Linked DNA regions of Homo sapiens. The protein of the gene in region 1 purifies or fractionates together with the protein of each later gene. This does not show direct contact. Each region holds a gene or a part of one and is shown on either strand. Other genes may lie near its edges.

Region 1 (4,951 bases):
CCAGCACCTAGCTTTACGGACTTAGAACAACAGTGCCTGGCTCATGGGAGTGGCTCAATGCATTTGTCTAGTTCTCTTTCTTCTCTTCTGCATCTAATTTGTCATCATAGCCCATCGTGTTTCTCTTTGCAATCCAACTCAGATTTCGATGTGTTTCATACTCCGTTAGCTTCTTGTTCTGATCCCAGTACTCATTTCAACCTTCGTCATCCTTCCTCCTGCAACAAATCGGCAACCCACCTAGAATCCGCCTGCCATTTTAGTCCTCCTGAAACCCTCGTGTCCATCTCCCAGCCTCAGCTCACATCCTTGCATATCCTGTCTAATTTCTCTACTTGGCCTTTTATGATCTGCCCCTTGATACCTTGCTTATGCTTTTCATCCTACACAGAGTTTTCTTGGATCACTCTAACCAATTCCGATTTTACCTTTCTCCGACCATTTATCACTAATAATTAATAAAATGTATGGAACTGATTGGGAAACTCAAGCAATGGTCAGAGAATGCTCTGACCCTGATGCTCTGTGGGTGAGTTGGGACCGTGTTGGGCATCGGTTTCCCATGATGCTTGGTGCACTGTTAACTACAAGGACAGACTTGAGAGAAATCTTGTGGCAAGGAGAAGATCGGGACAAGAGAAAGGATCCTCCTGCCCACAAGTTTAATGTGAACATCACTTGAATGCGTCCAAATGCAGAAAGAAGGAACCTGCTATGAAGGAAGTAGGCAAAGATAGTGGGGGTGGAAGAATAGAGGTAAGATCTCTTCTGGAAGCAGAAGAGTAGGAGTGTTGGTGGGTGAAATTCTGAGATGAGGACACCGGAGGTGTGTAGGGTGAGAGAGGCCAGGTGATGATTGCTGCTTTGGGAGGCCGCAGTGGCTCCCAGGTCCAGTGGGAGGGGACACCCGGAGAAGGCAATTAGAGAGAGGGAAGTTACAGTCACTAGAGCAAATGAACAAAGGAGAGTAAGAGAATAAATTAAGGATTAATTGAGTCTGAGTGATTAGGGCTGCCCAAAAGAAATACTGGTTTAGAGTCAGAAGCTGTATTTCAAATGAGCAGCTGTCAGGGGGTGAGGTGACTTCCAGGGGCACTGTTAGAGTGTCCAGTGGATCAGTTTCATCCCCTTACTTTCCTCTTTATTAATCACGGGAAGAACATTGGGATGAGGACCCTGCCAACAAATGGTTGTGTGACCTTGGGGCTGGTGGGGTCAGATAGAGATTTGTTTGAGAGAGGTAAAATGGGGAGGTTGTTTTCTCAGAGGGACTTGCGGTAATTTCCATTGTCATGTTCGTAGTCTTAGGGTCAACCAGACTCAAACCATTCTGCAGGATGAGCATAACAAAATCTCACCCTGGGACTGGAAAGAAAAGCTTTGAATGATCCTGGGGTCCCTGGAAATCCTCATCCTGGTGGATTACAGGCCCTGAAAGCTGACAACAAGCTTTGAGCCAGGATTCTTGATGATGGGTGGTTTTCTTTCAGGGAAGAGGAGATGTTAACAATAAGAGAAGCTTGCAGACAGGCATTTAGAAGGAGCTAGGAGAAGAATTCTCTCATGTCAGTAGCCCTCTTAGGGACTACTTAGGTTCGGATCCATTTAGTAACTGAACTCCTAGTGAGCTTGTTTGCAAATCCTCTCTATTGTCCCAGCCGTGAAGTACTTCTCTGGCTTCCATAGTTACCTTCTCCCTGGCTGGTGAAGAAGTGGCCCATGTTTCTGGGGTTTCCCAGAATGTTACAGTCAGCCTCAAAGCCCATGTGGAAGGTATATTTCCTGGTTTCTATTGCAAAAGTTCTGTAGTGGTGTTGCTGCAATGAAATGGAAGTCCAAGGCATTCCCTGTTAGTGACGGAGTGTTCAGAGGACCTACACGTAATTGCTTTCATGTTCGTTACCCAAGTAGGGGACAGAGAGAGAGGAGCCACTGACACGTGAACCCAGGGAGACCTCCCCTGGATGGCTGGGTGCAGGTACTTACCACCCACCAACCGATGATGAGTATCTGCCAATTTACTGGAAGAAAACCTGAAATCTAGCTGTGGAGCCAAGATAGATGCAGAAGAAAGCGAGTGGAACAGGAGAAAGTGTATAGGAACTCAGAGGCTGGCAGGGCCTTCCTGAGTCTGGGAAGGGCTGAGGCGGGAACGAGGACACATTTGCTCCCTGGGACACGTGGTTCTTAGTGTGCAGGGGAAACCCGCATGTGGTCACTGAGGGAGAGGCACAGGCCCACACATCTCATCACCATGAAGGAAGGAACAATTCAATGTGGCCAATTTGTTTTTCTACTATGGCAAGCACTTTTTTTCCTTTAACATTTTTGGTATTTTAAGAGTTTTTGCACATTTATTCTGCTTCTAATGAAGTTTTAATTGTTTCTCTTTCCTCCTGAGTTTAGAATCTGATTCATAATGTACATGGGAACCCATGAATTTCACTCATATTTAATGCATAACCAAAGATATAAACTGAAATGATACATTTTGAGAAGATCAAGAAAAGAAAAAGAAAGCTTACAGGAAAAATGATATCCTTAGTCTTGAGTCAATTGGGATATTGTTAAAATGAAGCCGAACAGCACACTGAGGTGATAGCCACTAGAAGTTGTATTCTCTTCTTTTCCACAGCAGGTTTCTGGTTTTCAAAATAAAAGCAATTATGATTTAAATTCTTCTAGCTTTTGCTAGAGTTTATATTTATTTCATAATCAAAGAAACTTTACATGAGGAAAGTTCGGTCTCACACACACGCACACATGTGTGCACAAATGAATGAAAGATATTCCACCATATTTTTTTTCACCAATTTTGACTGTGGTGTAGAATTCAGTTAAATTAGTTCATGTGTAGCAGTGAATTGTCTGTTGATCTCTGTTATTTCTTCCAGTGCTTTGGGGTTTTTATTTTTATGGTTCCTTTCCCTTTGTCTTTCCCTTTCCCTCCCCTCCCTTCCCCCTTCCCTCCTTTTCCCTTCCCTCCCTTTCCCTTTCTCTCCCCCCCCTTCCTCCCCTTTCCCTCCCCTTCCCCTCCCCTTCCCGTTCCCTACCCTCTCCTCCCCTTCTCTCTCTCTCTCTCTCTCTTTCTCTTTATCTCTCTCCCTCCCCTCCCCTCCCCTCCCCTCTCGTCTTCTCTCCTCTTCTCTCCTCGGGGCTCATGAGTGAGTTACTTTTGAGAGATGCTATTTTGATAGTGGCAGGACCAGCAACAAACCTGTACCATCTCAGCATTCAGGAACAATGGTGTCCACATGTCTTTTTGAGGTTGTACAGGGCATTCTTAAGGCACATTTGAATAGTCCCACAGGCTGAGAGGAGTTCCTCTGATCTTAAATACAGCATCAGCCTGAGGAGTAACCATTTCTAGTCAGGAGATCAGAGCTTTTTTACGCCGTGGCCTACCTACTGCTGTTGGCAACTTTATTTCTTGTAGGTGCATTGATATGTAATTGTCTGGCAGGTCTGTTCTAAGCATTGCATGTGTATTTTCTCATGAAATCCCTAGAAAATCCCTCAGAGGTAGCTACCTGCAAAGAAGTGAAGTGAGCCCAGTGTTTGCAGACACAGGCAGTGGAGCGACAGTTTCAGACCTGGGCAGGCTGGCTCTAGAACTCTCACTTAATCTTGCCATACAGGGGCCCTTTCTGCTGGAGATGGACATATTTTAAAATGAGAGGGAAACTTGGTGCCCTGCTTCTACCTGCAGGAAGTTACTTTATAATATCAAATGTGAATTTCTTACATTACCAGAGCCTTGCAGGCTGTGTGCCACATCATAGGTCCTGTGTTTAATGTTTGTGGAATTGCATCGAACTGATTCCATGAGATAGTATTTTACATAATAAATACAGAGTAGGGTAATTATATGCAGTTTACTAGGGTACCTTAATGCAGTGTGTGTGAACGGGATACCTCTTTTATCTGTAGCATTATACCAGGTACCTAAGAGATACCATGAAGGTGGAAGCCATAGTTCCCGTAGAGTTCAGATGCTCAAACAGTGAAACCTTATATGCATCAACCTGGGAACAGTAAGCTTATGGTTCTAGGGGGATTGTGTCCTGTGTAAAATTCAGAGGGTCCAAAAGGTGAAGAGATGATGGATGTGGTCATGATATTGGGCTCCAAAACTCACGGAGTAAATGGCCAATGGTGAAGTAAATGGTGGTAAAAGCAGAGATTCTATTTCATTATAAAATATGAAAAAAACATGAAAGGCAGAATCCAGACTATAGAACAACATGTAAGGCAGGAATTAAAGTTTCAATGAAATGCCGCCTTGATCTCTAAAAGTGCTCCAAAATCTCTTTTGTAGCGTTTCAGGAAATTTTGATTCATTTTATTTTTGAAACAGTTGACATTTGGGGGAGTGGGCTAAGGGATGAAAATATGTTTTAAAGTGCTTGTTTTTTTAAGGACAATATTTTCAAGAACTGTACTTCAGGAGCATGTCACAGTTATGAGCCTGTAGGCAAGAACAGGGTTTTTTTTTTCCTCTCCTTTTAGGGAAGAACAACATATTGAAGGATGATTAAGACACTTGAAAAATGTAACAGAAACATACACACACACGCATTGCATACACAGGATCCAATCCCTGATGCCCTTTGCCTCTCTTCTTGTTTTATTTCATTTATTTATTTATTTTTAGACAGAGTCTCACTCTGTTGCCAGGCTGGAGTGCAGTGGTGTGATCTTGGCTTACTGCAACCTCTGCCTCCCAGCTTCAAGTGATTCTCCTGCCTCAGCCTCCTGAGTAGCTGGGATTACAGGTGCCCGCCACCATGCCAAGCTAATTTTTGTATTTTTAGTAGAGATGGGGTTTCACCATGTTGGCCAGGATGGTCTCGATCTCTTGACCTCATGGTCCGCCCACCTCAGCCTCCCAAAGTGCTGGGATTACAGGTGTGAGCCACCGCACCCAACCCATCTCTTCTTATTTTTTAGA
Region 2 (4,951 bases), on another chromosome or scaffold:
CTCTGTCTTTAAAAAAAATAAAACAAACAACTACTTGGGCATGGTGCCACATGACTGTAGTTCCAGCTACTCAGGAGGCTGAGGCAGGAGGATCACTTGAGCCCAGGCATTGGAGGCTGCAGTAAGCTAGGTTCTCACAAATGCACTAGAGCCTGGGTAACAGAGAAACTGTGTCTCAAAACACAAAACAAAGAGTTGAAGCAAAAAGAAAAGAGAGTTCAAATTGGGATGGTGAAAAGGAAGAAATGAAAAAGGTGTTGAGATGGGATAAGAAAAAGAAAAAAATCAGGCATGCTTGAAAGCTTAGGAAAATTATTGTGCCATTCACAGAGGGGGAAAGTTGATGAGTCTACTGGGAATATGCTGAGTTTGGGGCTGTATTACTAACAAATAACCCTCAGCAGAAATTCAAATTATCCAGAACATTGCCTCAAAAAAATGCAAAAGTACTTATTTCCTCAACAAAACATCAAATTTTAATTTAAACACTAATAGCATAATGTGGCATATATCAACTATCCACAATTTCTTTATAAAACAGAAAATTTTGATAAATTTTCACTTACTATATTTACATTTAATAAGTTACTTTTATATAAGTTATTCATGCTTTATTTCAATGTGTATACATTATCATTAATAAAATTTTGGCCAGGTGCGGCGGCTAACACCTGTAATCCCAGCACTTTGGAAGGCCTAAGTGGGTGGATCACGAGGTCCGGTGTTCGAGACCAGCCTGACCAACATGGTGAAATCCTGCCTCTACTAAAAATGCAAAAATTAGCCAGGCGTGGTGGCACGCACCTGTAATCCCAGCTACTCAGGAGGCTGAGGCAGGAGAATCACTTGAACCTGGGAGGCCGAGGTTGCAGTGAGCCGAGATAGCACCACTGCACTCCAGCTTGGGCGACAGAGCGAGACTCTGTCTCAAAATAAATAAATAAATAATTTTAAAAAAAATTTTATCAGACATAGGAAGAAAATAATTTCCTGTTACTAAACAAATTCCAAATAAATTAAGCATTGCCTATATTTAAGAGGGTAAAATTATATACTAATATATGAGAAGTAATGTATTTTATTCCATGAGTTTACACATATACCACACAAAATAAAATAAAATACAATTTACCTAGAAAATGGCTACATATATTTATTCCATGAATGACTGGCCCACTGAGATCAGCCAGTTAATTAAAAAACCCCAGGGTATGAAGAAATAAAAAGAGGTTTCTCTCCTAAAAAAGTTAGGGATGGTGATTAGCTCTCGGGGAGATACAAAGGATAGGGATCAACAAAAAGCACACAGGTAGCTTCAAAAGTAGGGAGAATGTTCTAGTTATTGAGTGGAGGCTTATTGGGTGCTTATTGTTATAAAATTAAATATATATGATATAATTATATATATCAAATTTTATGCAATAAAACTTTTAACATTCCTATGTAATCAATGTAACTGAAGGAAAACAGGAAACCTATTGTAAAACAATTAACTGTATATAAATATTATATCACAATACTTTGTGTACCTTTATACTACTTGCTGCACCTAAGTTATTTTTTCAACAAATATAGAACTTGACAATTTTATATTTTTCTTTAAATTGCCACATTTTTGTAAGAATTTGCTACATACAACAATGTTGTTCAAAAGGAAACTACAAAACAACAAAAATTTGTCTTCCATTGTTCACTGGTTAAACAAGATGAACCAGAAGAGTAGAACAGCTTTCTGAGTAGGTTTCTCTGGGCTTCGGTTAAGGGCTGAGTTTTAGTTTGCAGTGACAACTGAATCATTTAGAAGAAGTAATCCTAGAAACTTACTGTATAGTGAGATATTTTTAATCAGTTAATGAATTAAGTTTACCAAAATACTGAACTCCTCTTTAACCATTTTCCTACCATTTTATAATAACATTTTTCACTATATTGTTGTCCTTCCAGAAGACAGCATGGAGGGACTGTCTGAAACTTCACTTTGATCTTGTTATAGTAGCATTTAAAAGACTATCTTCTCTCACAGGTTGGAACTCTAAATGTATTTTCCCAAAGAAATACTCAATCCCCCACACTGCAATGGGAAGATAAAATGTAAGGCATAGTGCTTTGTATGAAGGACTCTGAAGTTTGTAAGATCAGTTAAGCACACACAGGTAAATACAGACAGATTAAGATAAGTCCTCTCTAATAGCAATCAACAGGAGGTGACAGTGGAAAGAGTCAGAATTTACAGTCAGAGAAAACCAGATTGAAATCCTGACTCTTATCACTTACTAATTTTGAGGCCTTATACAAGAGCCTCAGTATTCTTTTTTAAAATGGACATAATATTGTTCTAGGAGGCTGCAGTGTGGATTAAATAAAATAAAACAAAGTATCTTGTAAATATATACTTATTGTCTCATAGAAGGGGCTCTTCAAATAATGGCTATTAATATTTATATTTTTCTAAATTATTATTAATGATGAAGATGGCATTATTGATTTTGGTAGTAATAAACATAGTTCTAAGGAGTTAAAATGAGACTGTAACACCAGAAAAGGGGCTCAGGTAACTAAAAAAATCAGTGATGTCATTGTGTCATTGTGTGTAATTACAATGATAGCTAAGAGATTTAAAAACAAAACCAAACAAACTTAACAAAAAAGCTGCCCTCTCTCCTCTTCAAACCTACCAATTTCCCTATGCTAGAGTAAGAGAAGTTATGGCAGATAAAAGGTCTATGATTTCTCCTTAAGTATTGCTAAATCTCTCAACTGGAATTAGAGGAATTTTGTCACTTAAGAAACAGCCTACGTCATTTAAAATAATTTTATTCTAAAAATAACTGTATACTGATAATTACAACAAATTTACCATATGAATAACATAACATTTTGTTATAATCAGATATTTAAACTACTTTGAGCAACTTCCCCAAATCATTTATTTAGACTTTTTTTTTCGGTTGGGTGGGGGCGGGGGTGGTACTTAAGCCCCATCTACATTATAGCTTTCAAAATTTCTTTAAATCAATACTATATGAAAGGCTTTCTTTATCTCCCTGGGCAGAAATAATCTTGTCCTCCTTTAAGAGCCCATAGTACTTTATTCATGCTTGAATTGTAATGCCATTCATGTCTTCTATTATGTTTATTTAGGTAGATAGCCTTTATTTTTCCTAACACTGTCCACTGAAATCATTTAATATTTATTAAATAAACACATAAAGACATGTGAATATGCTTAATGATCTATAAAGTGATTTGAAATATAAAGATATGTTTTACAGTTAAAATATTGCTAATACTCCATTTAATGCATTGCAGTGTAGTTTACTAGAAATACTATTGTAACTTAAAATCTTTAACACAGCCTCTATATAATCATTAATTGCCAATGATTTATTAAAACACTGCATACATTACACCCTAATAAATGGGGAAGACTGATGTTAAAAAATATACCAATCCAGCCCTAGAAATACTATGAGTCAACCTCAGTATAAGCCCAAGGAAGACTTTAAAAATAAATTAAAATTCTAGTTAACAAAAAAGTTAGATGCCCAAGAAAAGCCCAGTACATGTAAGATTTCTAGTAATTCGTGATTATTACCATTAAAAAGATCCATAAAAGGTGACATATTGCTAAATTTTAATTTTTATATTCAGTTTATTCAACATTTCAATGGAAATGAGAAGTATTAATCTAATTGTCTAAACAAAGTTCTCACACAATCAGGTAGAGGTTTACACTAGTTATTAATATCACAGTATGGCACCTGACAACCACTTTCTTTATTTTCTTCATTTAATGAAATACAGAAAAGAATTCTATTATTTCCTGGAAGTGTGGATATACTTTTTTTTTTTATTATTTGTGTCTCCTAACTAGTTCTGAAGAGCAGTAATGCTTTCATTCAATGAAAGAAGAAAATGAATGTTTAATATCAAGACCTATAGAAGAATGTAAATACAACTAAACGTAAGTAAAGGATACAAAATAATAAGGATGACACATGCCACTTCTGGGTCCATAACTGAAGAGTTGTGGAGATTCTATGTACAAATATAAAAATGATTTACTAATTTTTTTCTTAAAATGTTGTTCTTGCCAAGAAACCTTCAAATTTTAATTTGTCCAAATTGTTCCAATTTGCCAAATCAATAATGTATAATCAGAACTTAATCCATCTACATAGTCTCAGTTCTACTTCCAATTCAAGACAAGTAACCATGAAGTTGAGAAATTACAGTACTTTCTTGACTGCCTGGAAGCCAAAAATAAAAGAAAAGTAGCAAGAATTAGTTTTTAACATCCCTTTTACAACATCAAAAAAGGTTACTTAGGGATACACACACACACACACACACACACACACACACACAAAACATTTAGATTTTATAGATGAGGCCTAATTTTGCATACATGGTCAAGTAGTTTTATAAAGTCCTGATTCATGTACTACTAATATCACCAATTTAGGAATTAATAAAACTAGTAAAATCAAAGAATATCAAAATGACTTAACTGATTAAGCCTGAAGTTTTACAGAAATATAAAATGAAATCCCTTTTAACTTTAGCAATGGAGTAGAGGTAAAATACAGTTGTAATAACTTATTTTTTAACCCTATACTATAATGTATTATATTTTACAAAAACAGTGACTGTGACACATCAGAATCTATGTAATAGTCAAATGGTTTCTAACGATCAAGAAATACACTGGGAGATGAATGTCAAGAAGCCATTACTTCCACATAAAATATTTTACCACCACGAGGCTTTGAAATGCAAAATAAATCACAGGTACTATTTCTAAATTATCTGCCATCAGAACCATCAGTCCACTGGATTCTGAACTGCAGTCACAGCTCTTCTTGGACTTTATATAATTTGACAACAGTGTACAGTTCTAAACATGTATAAATAAACAGAATATCAAAGCAGCAGAAAAAAATTGGCTTTT

Evidence for each region. The genes of interacting proteins can lie anywhere in the genome.
Region 2: the proteins of RYR2 (region 1) and CAMK2D purify together in Homo sapiens (co-immunoprecipitation; one study listed by IntAct). This does not show direct contact.

What each region holds. Positions count from the first base shown.
Region 1 is NC_000001.11:237,048,217-237,053,167, forward strand, and holds part of RYR2 (ryanodine receptor 2), read left to right. Parts: intron 1-4,951. UniProt on the Homo sapiens protein: Cytosolic calcium-activated calcium channel that mediates the release of Ca(2+) from the sarcoplasmic reticulum into the cytosol and thereby plays a key role in triggering cardiac muscle contraction. Aberrant channel activation can lead to cardiac arrhythmia.
Region 2 is NC_000004.12:113,750,841-113,755,791, forward strand, and holds part of CAMK2D (calcium/calmodulin-dependent protein kinase type II subunit delta), read right to left. Parts: intron 4,251-4,951; coding exon of another isoform or gene 4,201-4,250; exon of another isoform or gene 3,633-4,200; intron 1-3,632. UniProt on the Homo sapiens protein: Calcium/calmodulin-dependent protein kinase involved in the regulation of Ca(2+) homeostatis and excitation-contraction coupling (ECC) in heart by targeting ion channels, transporters and accessory proteins involved in Ca(2+) influx into the myocyte, Ca(2+) release from the sarcoplasmic reticulum (SR), SR Ca(2+) uptake and Na(+) and K(+) channel transport.